Linked DNA regions of Homo sapiens: region 2 is linked to region 1. Evidence: fine-mapped expression QTL. A gene starts in region 1. The other region holds a variant in brackets. All regions are shown on one strand. Distances are from middle to middle. Region 1 holds the start of DENND4A (DENN domain containing 4A). Region 2 overlaps SLC24A1 (solute carrier family 24 member 1).

Region 1 (5,000 bases):
TAGAATCCCTTGCCCAAATCACATCTAGGGTTTAGGTTTAACTGTGACTATAGTCACATATGCCTGGAGTGTTGAGAGGACTCCTGATATGACTGTTAAGGGGGGCTCTGAGGTACGATACTTCCTGGGTACACAGTCAAATGCTGCGTATTGGTTTTCTACTGTTTATCAATATTGTTCTTTAAGAAGCTATTTTCTCTGATTAAAAAAACCTTCACGCCTTTTAAACTTTTGAAAGGTTTTAGAATCTCATTGTGTATGCTACATGCAACTATATAACATTTTAATTGGTACTCTGTAGATGAAAATATTTGTGTGTATATATATATATATATGCACATATACATGTATAACCAACTAAAAGAGTGCTTTTGCTGCTAGTGGAATATTTTGATATGCCAAGCTACTCCTTAAAGAGGAATTGACCTGATACGTCTAGCAACACTTAAAACTAATGAAAGGCTAAATCTGTGTCCAATGGGTAAAGAATTGGGAGGGTTCCCAACTGGACTTTAAAAAAAGCTTTTTAAGGTAGGGCACAATGGCTCATGCCTGTAAACCCAGCACTATGGGAGGCTGAGGTGGGTGGATCACTTGACCCCAGGAATTCAAGACCGGCCTTAGGCAACATAGTGAGACATAGTCTCTACAAAAAACAGAAAAATTTGCTGGGTGTGGTGGTGGGCACCTGCAGTCCCAGCTACTCCAGAGGCTGAGGTGGGAGGATCAATTGAGCCTGGGAGGGAGGCTGTAGTAAGCCGTGATCAGGCCACTGCACTCCAGCCTGGGCAACATAGCAAGACTCTGTGTCAAAAACAAGTCTTTTTTTACAGCTTTAACTGACATACAGAGGACTACATATATTTAAAGTATGCAACTCGATTGTTTTGTTTTGTTTTAAAGCAAAATCTTGCTCTGTCACCCAGGCTGGAGTGCAGTGGCACAATCTCGGCTCACTGCAGCCTCCGGCTCTGGGGCTCAAGCGATCCTCCCACCTCAGCCTCTCAAGTAGCTGGGACCACAGGCGCACGCCACCACGCCCGGCTAATTTTTTGTATTTTTGGTGGAGACAGGGTTCTCGCCATTTTGCCAGGCTAGTCTTGAACTTCTGAGCTCAAGCTGACCCTCTTGCCTCGGCCTCCCTAAGCGTTGGGATTACAGGCATGAGCAAAGGCGCCTGGCCTCAGTTATTTTTCTAACCTTTATAGCATGTTTCCCCTTAAAATGTGCTTAAGTACTTTTTTATTGTCCCTCTTCTCCCACTAAACTGCAGTTTCCTGAAGGCAAAGGTTTTCTGTTTCCCTCACCACTGTGCACCCTCTGTATGGATGTTTGTTGACTGAATGAATGAATACAATGAAAGAACTGGAGGTAGGAAATAAAGTTGTAAACTTGGTTAGTAAAAGGCTATGCAATTTAGGAAAAGTTGACTTTAAAGCAGAGGGATTTTGGGGGTCCTGTTTCTTCTTTCATTTGTCCATGGAATAATGTCTAACATTTATTGAGTACTTTCAAGCACTATACTAAGTACTTCACAGGTACTATAGAATTTAACTCCCGAGCAACCCCATGGGGGTAATCAAGCTTTATTAACCTCATCTGTCAACAGCCATCAATGGTGGAGAGCCACAGTCAGGTTTAAGTAGGCCGTATCCAATTAATCCAAAGTAATCGACACCCCGTCAGTCAACAATAGCTGTTTCATCAACGTACTTTTCGGAGAAACCCCCTGAATTCCCCGCTTTACCTTTCTATCTTGGGACCGAAACCTACTCGGCGGTTGCTAACCCTTAAGGGAGTTTCCTGGAGAATGTGAGCACCCTTGGTGGAGGAGCAGCAGCTGCTCAGATCTAGCAAGTCTGAGACGAACCGAGCAAGGCAATCTCAGGACTCCCAGAGTGCCGGGGAGGAAGGAAGAAACAGGTCAGTTGGCGCGAACTGGATTCTTGTGCCTCTGGGTGACGAAAGGTGAAGGGATTGTACGCTTCGCCCACGCCAGCCTGGGGCTCGGGATCTCCTGACCCGACGGGGAACCACGGTGCGTTTCCCCAACTACACCGCACGTCACGGACTAAGGCGACTTAGTCCCGCCCACCTTCACCGCCCCATTATCAGTTTGGCGCTAGGACCCCACGACCCTCAACTCGGCCCTCTCCTCCCACTCGGGCCAGATCCGGCCTTCGATTGGTGCTCGCGGGCGTGATTCCCGCCCCCGCCCCTTCCGTCATTGCCAAGATGGCGCCGGTCGCGGTGGCCGCGGAGGCTAGAGTCGGAGAAAGAGGCGGAGGCAGTGGCGGCCGCGAGGGGAGGGGGAGTCCCGTCTGACTGAGACGGCAGGCCTGGGCGGGCGGGCGGGGGTGCCGCGAAGGGCGGAGCGCCGGGCTGGGGATGAGCTAAGCGGGCTCAGAGCGCCGCGGCATTCAGCCCCTCGTGTTCCGCTACCGCGCGTGCGGGATTCCGGCGCCGCTCTCCGAGCTCGATCCGCTGCTCGCACGGGAGCCAGCTGGGTGGTGAGTGCGGGGGCGGCGACCCGGGCAGCGGTGGCAGGTGGAGCTGTCACGGCCCGGAGAGGTGACAGCCGGGGGCGCGGGAGCGGGGCGGGTGGGTTCGGGGAGGAGGCACGGATGGCCGAGATCTCCGCCCGAGAGCTCCTGAGATCCGGGAGGTGCTCCGCGGCTCGGTCCGCCCCGGGATGGCGCGGCGGTGCTGAGAGTAGCACCCGCGCCTCTGCGTCGGACGCGTGGGGGGCTCCTGTGTTTTCATTCCAGATTTTCTATTCCAGGCTGGCCTGGGGCTGTTGTTATTTGGGAGTGGGGGCGGGGAGGGGGAGGTCCTGGATCTGGGATTTTGACAAGCCCGTTACGTAAGTCGGAGGTGGCTTCCCGGAATCCCACCTGCTCGGTATCTGAGACAGGCGGCGGGGGGAGCCCGGGGTGCCTGCAGGCCCACTTTTCCTCCCAGGGTCTGTTCAGCCTTCCCCGGCCCGCGGGCACGGGTTCTGCGTGAGCGCGGCCAGCGTCCAAGTTGACCAGTTTTTTTTCTAGTCTTTTTGGGGGGGTGTGTGGTGGGGGAAGGGAACTGTTCCTGGTTACCACCATTCCCTTTGAAGTTTATTGTTTTCTGGAGGTGGGGGGCAGGAAAAACAGTAAAAAGCTTGTGACCTAAAATTGGGTCGCAGCGACAGCTTTTCATTATCGTGCTTTTAAATGACAGATGTGCTGGAAGATTGTTGTTGTTGTTCCAATGTGCTTTTAATTCAAACGTATGGTTACGCCTAGAACCGTAGAGAGAGGTTTTTGTCTTATAGGACAGTTATTTCTTGTTTGCAACAGCAGGACAGGCATCAGTCAACAGGCATGTATTTATTTGAGGAGAAAACGCGTGTCAGCCAGCTAGAGACCCGTGAGGGCAGAAATTGTATTACTCTGTGAATATGTTATTCTTTAAAATGTATTATACGTTAATGAAAAGAATAGCCCGAATGTAAAAGAAGTCTTAGAAGATTACAAGCTGTTATTTGGTGTGTATATAGTCTCCTTCTATTTTCTGTTTACCCTAGTATACCTCTTCTCTCCTTGGGGGAGGAGGTGGAGACACCTGTAAACAGCGTAGCCCCGGTTACGCTAATCTATTGTAGTACATTTGGGATTATTTTAAGAAGTATTCTGGGGGACCTAAGATTGGGTAATAAGTAAGGACTCTTGAGCAAGTTATTCAGTTTATGTTGATAGCGGTTCTGGGATTCGACTTCTGAAAACTTAAGTATACAAAATTTCTGAGCTGTTTGAACCCTGTTTGAACTTAAAATAAAATATTATATTTGGCTTCTTTTTTGGAAACTGTTTTGGGCAGAATTAAACATTTTCGGCAATTTTTACTTTATTTTCACGATTTCCCTTTGAACCACAGCTCTCAGTAGGAGTCCAGAACAGCATATGTTATCATCATCATTATATATAATATGTTACATAATTTTCTTTTTCTGAATGATTAAACATAGACCTACTTCACTGTGGAGTTTAATTTTTGTTTTATATTATTTTTTAAGCCCCTTCCATTCTGGGATCACTGTGGAATTTTATAACAGTGTACTTGCTGAGAAAGTTAATTGATCTTGATACCAGTCGCAAATTGGGAATAAATGTAGATAACTTTTGGTCCAAGTTTTAAACTTATATACACAAATTTACATTTTTGAAAATTGGTGAAGCAATATGAATTTTTTGTCTGTGCAAGAGAGCCAGGAAGTTGATGCTGATTTGTTCTGAACTTTTCCACATGAATTACCACTGGTTTAAAGAGTTATTGATTCTCAAGTTCCTGGAACTGTTGTCCTATTTCTGGTAACTTGAATAGTATTTAGTATAATTGGGAGGCTAGAAGAAGAGACTACATGACATTTATTAATTCATTAAAAAAATTATGGCAGAATTGTAAAATAAAATTAGCTGGGATTAATAGAATTGTAAAATAAAAGTAGCTGGGACTACAGGCGTGCACCACCGTGCTTGGCTAATTTTTGTATTTTTTGAGACGGGGTTTCGCCATGTTGCCCAGACTGGTTTTGAACTCGTGAGCCCAAGCAATCTGCCCGCCTTGGCCTCCCAAAGTGCTGAGATTACAGGCGTGAGCTACCGCACCCGGCCAGTTATTACTCTTATAACTGCTATTATAAAACTTGGTTTTCCACTGAGTGATATTAGTTACATTATATTTTGTTGTTTGCAGAATTTTTCAAAGCATTCTATGTCCTACAAAAACCTAGTTAAAGCACTGATGCAGATAGAGTTGTTTGGTATATAATAAACCTTGTGCTATTCCTACTTAAATTGATGGTGCGTTGTTCTAGGTGGAAAACAAAAGTTGCTCTAGCAGGAAAATTGACTTGTTATTCTTGCCTTCTCTGATGTCAGAGACTTATCTTTGTGGGATTTTTCCTTTTTCCTACCACAGGTAGAAGAAGAGTGACTGAGAATAGCTGATACATTTTTCTTCCTTTT
Region 2 (5,521 bases), 150 kb after region 1:
CTGCCTGGCTCCAGGACAAGCAGGAAACAGATAAATGGGTCTGGAATTTCCTCCTCTCTACCTGTCTCCTAAACTCTCAGTTAGTTCAGCTGCAGCTGGCTCTGGCAATAAGCTCCATGGGTAGAGCCACTATGACATGTGTGGTCCCTCGAAGTGGCCTGGTGGGCCTGGGTCCTCATCAGAACTGAGAGGTGGGGGGCCAACACACCTTCGTCCAGACAAACCCAGTGCCCCCTTGGCACTAATCAAACCCTGAAGTCTTCTGTTGAGCAATGTGTAGCTGCTGTCACAGGAGGGCTCCCTTGGTTCTGGTCTTGGCACTGAGATTATCTGCTGGCTGTTGCTGGAAGGGCTAGCCATAAACACAAGCTTCCCCCTTTCCTTCTCATCCTCATCACAGCCTAGACTCTCACTTCCCATGTTACTGAGGAAAACAGGTCAGCTGCAGGGTCTCCCCCACCCTGTCTCACACACATCCAAGTGAAATCACCAGAAAAGCCATGGGACCCTGGAGAGGATAAGCCCCTTCACAGGGAAGGTGAGAGTTCAGACCCCAGGAAACATCTTTTCCACGGATCAGCTCTGTGGAAAGAGCTGGAACACCTGTAAAGAGTGGAAACATCTGGACGGCCATCTGGAAACAGCATACAAAAACACAAATGTGCATCTAGAGAGCCTGGGGAACAAAGGCCCTCATCACAGCCCTGCATGGTCCCCACCCCTCCCATATGTCATCTCAGGGTGTAGAATCAGGCTGGGCTCTTGAGCACGACTGAATCCCAGAGGACATCTGCAGTCACGAGAGCCATTCCATGCCCCAAAGACACCCAGAGACAATGTACCAGCATGCTTGTCCTCCCTGGGATGATTGCTGCTGGCTCCTGGGCACTCGTTTCCTCACATGCCTCTCCCCTCTCAGCAGGGCCGGATCATGGCTTTAGCATCAATCTCCTCTGACCTCAGCCTGGCCTGAACATCACATAATCCTGTTAGGACAAGTAGGCCAGCTGGAGGCTGTTGGTCATGGAGATGCCCAGCTGGGGGCCCTCCAGTCCCACCCAAGAGGTCTTTATCATCAGGACTTTGCTAGAGTCAGTGATTCCTCTGGGAGTAGCCACTGATGACCCAGAGATACAGCTTTCCTCATGGGGCCCTGGCCAGAGCACCCCGGCACTCATCACCAGAGGCTGTCAGGGGCTGCAGCTTCCATTCTGCAAACCCCAGAGGTACTATTTTTCTAGAGCTGACATTTGGGGATGGCCTCTCTCACATGTCTGCTGAGGTTTACCTTGAGGAATTGCTTTTTATTTTTTCTTTTCTCTCTCTTTTTTTCCTAACAGCTCCATCAGCAGCTTAGATTAATTTTTTTCTCCCTTTCTCTCTCTCTCTGTTCTTACCTTGAGGAATTCCTAAGGAAGGTTTCATCACTTGTCTTTGATGCAGCTTTTCACAGTATGGTTTATTTATTTATTTGTTTGTTTGTTTGTTTGTTTATTTAGAGATGGTCTCGCTCTGTCACCAGGCTGGAGTGCAGTGGCACGATCTTGGCTTACTGCAATCTCTGCCTCCCAGGTTCAAGCGATTCTCCTGCCTCAGCCTCCCAAGTAGCTGGGACTACAGGTGTGTGCCAATTTTTGTGTTTTTAGTAGAGACAGGGTTTCACCATGTTGCCCAGGATGCTCTCGATTTCTTGACCTCGTGATCCGCCCACCTTGGCCTCCCAAAGTACTGGGATTACAGGCGTGAGCCACTGTGTCCAGCCTTTTTAAAAATTATTTATTTATTTATTTATTTGAGGTGGAGTCTCACTCTGCAGCCTAGGCTGGAGTGCAGCGGTGCAATCTCGGCTCACTACAACCTCCACCTCCCGGGTTCAAGTGACTCTCCCGTCTCAGCCTCCCAAGTAGCTGGGATTACAGGCGCCTGCCACCACGCCTGGCTAATTTTTTTTGTATTTTAGTAGAGATGGGGTTTCACCGTGTTGCCCAGGCTGGTCTTGGACTCCTGAGCTCAGGCAATCCACCTGCCTCGGCCTCCCAAGATGCTAGGATTACAGGCGTGAGCCACCATGCCTGGCTGGTATTTTTTTTTAAAACAACTGACAACCCAATATTGTCTCTGAAAAGGACTTCAGAGCCTAAAGAAAATTCTGAGCCCCGAAAATTTGTCCTTGAGCCAGAAAGGTCAGTCAGAGTGCTCCCTGGGACTCAATGGATCATTCTGTGGTGTCATATTCAGCTCAGCCCTCAGCCCTCCTGCCCAACTGCAGTCCAAGCCCTTGGCTTTTGCACAAAGGCTAGCATTTCCTTGATGGGCCTCCTGGCTGGGTTCCGGTTCTGCACCAGAGCCCCAGAGATGGGGAGGCTCCAGGAGAGCAGGAGAGTAGCTGAGAAGTGCCCTTTAGGGGTCTGAGATGCATGTTGGGGGCAGCTCTCTGGGGAAGAGAAGCAGAAGGCAGGATGTGGTAAGGTGGACAGTGAGAATCTCAGCCGCTGCCACCATTTGTCAAATTGGACAACAGCCCCCACTATACTTTGGACCCTGCTCTTACCCTCGTCACCCTTAAAAGGGTCCTGGCAGTTTCCAGGGTGTCCTTTGGGATTCCAGACTTGGGGAGGAGTTGGCAGGTTTCCTAGGACTCCAGAGTTGAATATAAAGCAAAAGGAAGTGCCACTAAGAACTTCTGGGCTTTGGGACCCTACAAGAGGCGTCCCCAGAAGCAGCCCAGGCCAGTCAGCCTGGGCTGAGCTGCTTGGCTAGACACTCTCCATGGAACACTGGGGCTGACTCCTGGGCAGTGGGCTTTGCAGGGCAGCCCCATCCCAAATCTGTGCAGAGCACATGGTACTCACAGCCTAACTGCAGGTTAATGCCTTCATTTTACAGGGAGGGACAGAGGCAGGGAAGTGGGATGTGGATACCCAAGGACCTTAGCCTCCATGTTCTTTGTTGCCCTCTCTTGGTGAGTCCCCTGTCTTGGTCTCTACCCTCTTTCCCAGACTGTCTGACTTTTACTACTTTCCTCTGCTTATTATCTCTTCCCACTCCCTCCTCACTGCCTCTAGGATTTTCAGGTCCCAGTTCTTCTCCAGCTGCAGGAGGGAAGGAGTGGATGGGGCAAACCACAAAGGTCTGGAGAGGCCTTGCTTACCTTCCCTCAGGGGGTCCAGGCTGTGGAGCATGAGCTGGTAGATGGTGCTGCGGATGGTGCTGTTGTGCAGAGAGGTCGAGCTGCTCCCTCGGGTCAGCAAGGACGGGAGCTGAGCAAGAGGAGAGCCGCACAG[T/GCCTCAGT]GGGCCCCTGTCCAAGCCAGGGGAGGAACCACACGAGGGCATCACTAACCTTGCCTCTTTCCCATAAAGATCAGGGAGAAAGCACAGATGCCTTATCCTGACCTCCCCTCTTCCTCCACCTCCAACCAGAAGAGTTACACTACTTTCTTTCTCAGCCTCCCCTCAGCTCTTCCAGGACTATTTTGTTTTAGGTACTGAATAATTTCCCAACGTCTCCACAGGGAGCAACCTGGTGTATTAGGAATATCACGTTATGAAGGGTTTGCACATCCCTGCAAGTACACCCTCAGAAACACTCCCTCACCCACACACCACACAGACAGACCCACTGCACATGGCTACAGCCCTTTACAGTCCACAAAGAGCATTATCACGTTTTATCATTGCCCCACTCCCAGAGACAAGCAAAGCTATGATCCCCATCTATGGAAAGGGAAAGGAAAACTCAAAGAAGCTAGGTGCCTAAGCCAAGGTCATGCAGGAAGTAAATGAAAGAGTCAGACTGGTACCCAGGTCTTCTGTGGTCTTCTGATTCCCAGTTTTCAGTTTTGTTTTGGTTTTTTTTCTGCCCATGTGCTCAGAGACCCTCACAGGTACACACATACACACACATCTATACTGTACAGACACAGATGTGACACTTATTCATAGTGACACATATAGAAATATCATCTGATTTACAATGGAACATCCAAAGACAACGCTTCCACACTTGCGGAGTCCTCCCTCCCTTCTCTTCTTCCTCCCTCCTTTCTTCCCCCTCATCCCTCTGATCTGAACTCTTCTGCCATCTAGTGGTTGTGGTGACACTACTTCACCACAAGTCAGAGATTTTCTTTGGATGGGGGAGGTTCTTTAGGTTCAAGTTCGGAACTCCTTTCAAAGTTCCCCATAATTCTTTCCAGATACTTCATAGACTATAAACAGCTAAGACACAGTTTTTCAGAAACCTCAGACTCCTGTCCTCTCCAGTTCCCCTGCTATCTTTCTCTTAGTTCTGGGGCATTCCAAAGCCATAGGTAATCTGGCTTTTATATCAATCATACAATGTTGGGCTGTACATTAGGACTTGAATTCATCTAGTTCAAACAGTCATTTTACAGATGCAGAATCTGAAGCTCAAGGTCACACAGCAAGCTAATGGCAGAGAGGACTGTAACATTCCAGACTTAGCTCCCAAACTAGCACCTCCTCAAAGGCCATCTAGAGGTGAGAGTTCTCAGAAAAAGAGCCCTCTCCTCCCTTGCCTCACCCTGGCAGCGCTCCCAGGAGTTTCCTAGGCCTGAGCACAGCCAGGGTCCCCAGCACAGGGCCACAATACCCTGGGCCTGTGATCATCCACTGAGACCCTGCAGTGTCCCCACTGGGCAGACTCCATACGGCACCCACCTTCAGCTTCTTGTTATCCTGTAGCTCATCCACCGCAATGGCCCCATCGCCCGGCTGCAAACAGGGAGAGGAGTCACGAGATGTTGTGGCGAGACCCTCACTTTCTCCCTACATCCCTTTCTCCACGGAAGTCCTCAGGTTGAAATACAGAAACACACTCCGAGATAACCTGGTCTCAGAAAATGTTTCAACATGTTCCATCCCTCCAGTCTGACCTTCTATAATCTGGCTTCAGCCTGCAATGCAGTACCCCCAGTCGAATCTGTCCACTCACCATAGTCCAGTGGCACCAACTGTCTTTGGGTTTCTGAAATGTGCCATCCTCTTCACCCACCTCAAAACCCTCATCACAGGGCCCCTCGCCCCCTGTCCGTAATGCTCTTTCCCTCCTCAGGCTTCTGGTCTCCACTTAAGTGTCACCTTCCTCTGGGAAGCCATGTATAATTCTTTTATAGACCCCTGTTCTTTTCCTTCACTGCACTTTCCCCAATTTATTTGTGGAAATAAGTTGACTGCCCCACTAGCATCTTGAAGGTAGACTGTTTTATTCACCACTGTGTGGCCAGCATGAGAACACTGCCCAGCACTTAGCAAGAGCTCAATATTTATTAAATGAATGAATAAATGAAAATCAACTGTCCTCTAAATACACTTAATCTATTCTAAGTCTTGTTCCCTTGTTCATGCCTTTTTCTCCTGCCTAAAATGCCATCTCCATTCCTTTCTGCCTACTCAAATCTTATCCATTTTTTATAAAATTCAGGGTGAATTCTTGTATGAAGCTTTCCCAAATGCCCCTTCCATGCCCCCTCCCACCCTCCCTTCAGCTCATTACAATACCTCTCTCC

What was found. PIP is the estimated chance that this variant, and not a neighbour inherited with it, causes the effect. A credible set is the group of variants that fine-mapping cannot tell apart.
Region 2: its variant is the best candidate, but not a certain one, in a credible set for the expression of DENND4A in whole blood (INTERVAL, PIP 0.63).

The regions. Positions count from the first base shown.
Region 1 is chr15:65,789,520-65,794,519 of GRCh38, reverse strand. It overlaps DENND4A (DENN domain containing 4A), which reads left to right and starts at 2,227. Exons shown (of 33, transcript NM_001320835.1): 1 at 2,227-2,510. LOC105370866 (a long non-coding RNA gene) reads right to left here and starts at 2,047. Exons shown (of 3, transcript XR_932372.2): 1 at 1,748-2,047. RefSeq lists enhancers at 1,531-2,150, 1,374-2,339 and a silencer at 2,341-2,670.
Region 2 is chr15:65,637,334-65,642,854 of GRCh38, reverse strand. SLC24A1 (solute carrier family 24 member 1) reads right to left here. Exons shown (of 10, transcript NM_004727.3): 3 at 4,674-4,727; 4 at 3,152-3,260. Among named protein-coding and RNA genes, the nearest start is that of SLC24A1, 18 kb to the right of the region's middle. The variant T/GCCTCAGT (reference allele first, on the strand shown) is at 3,285.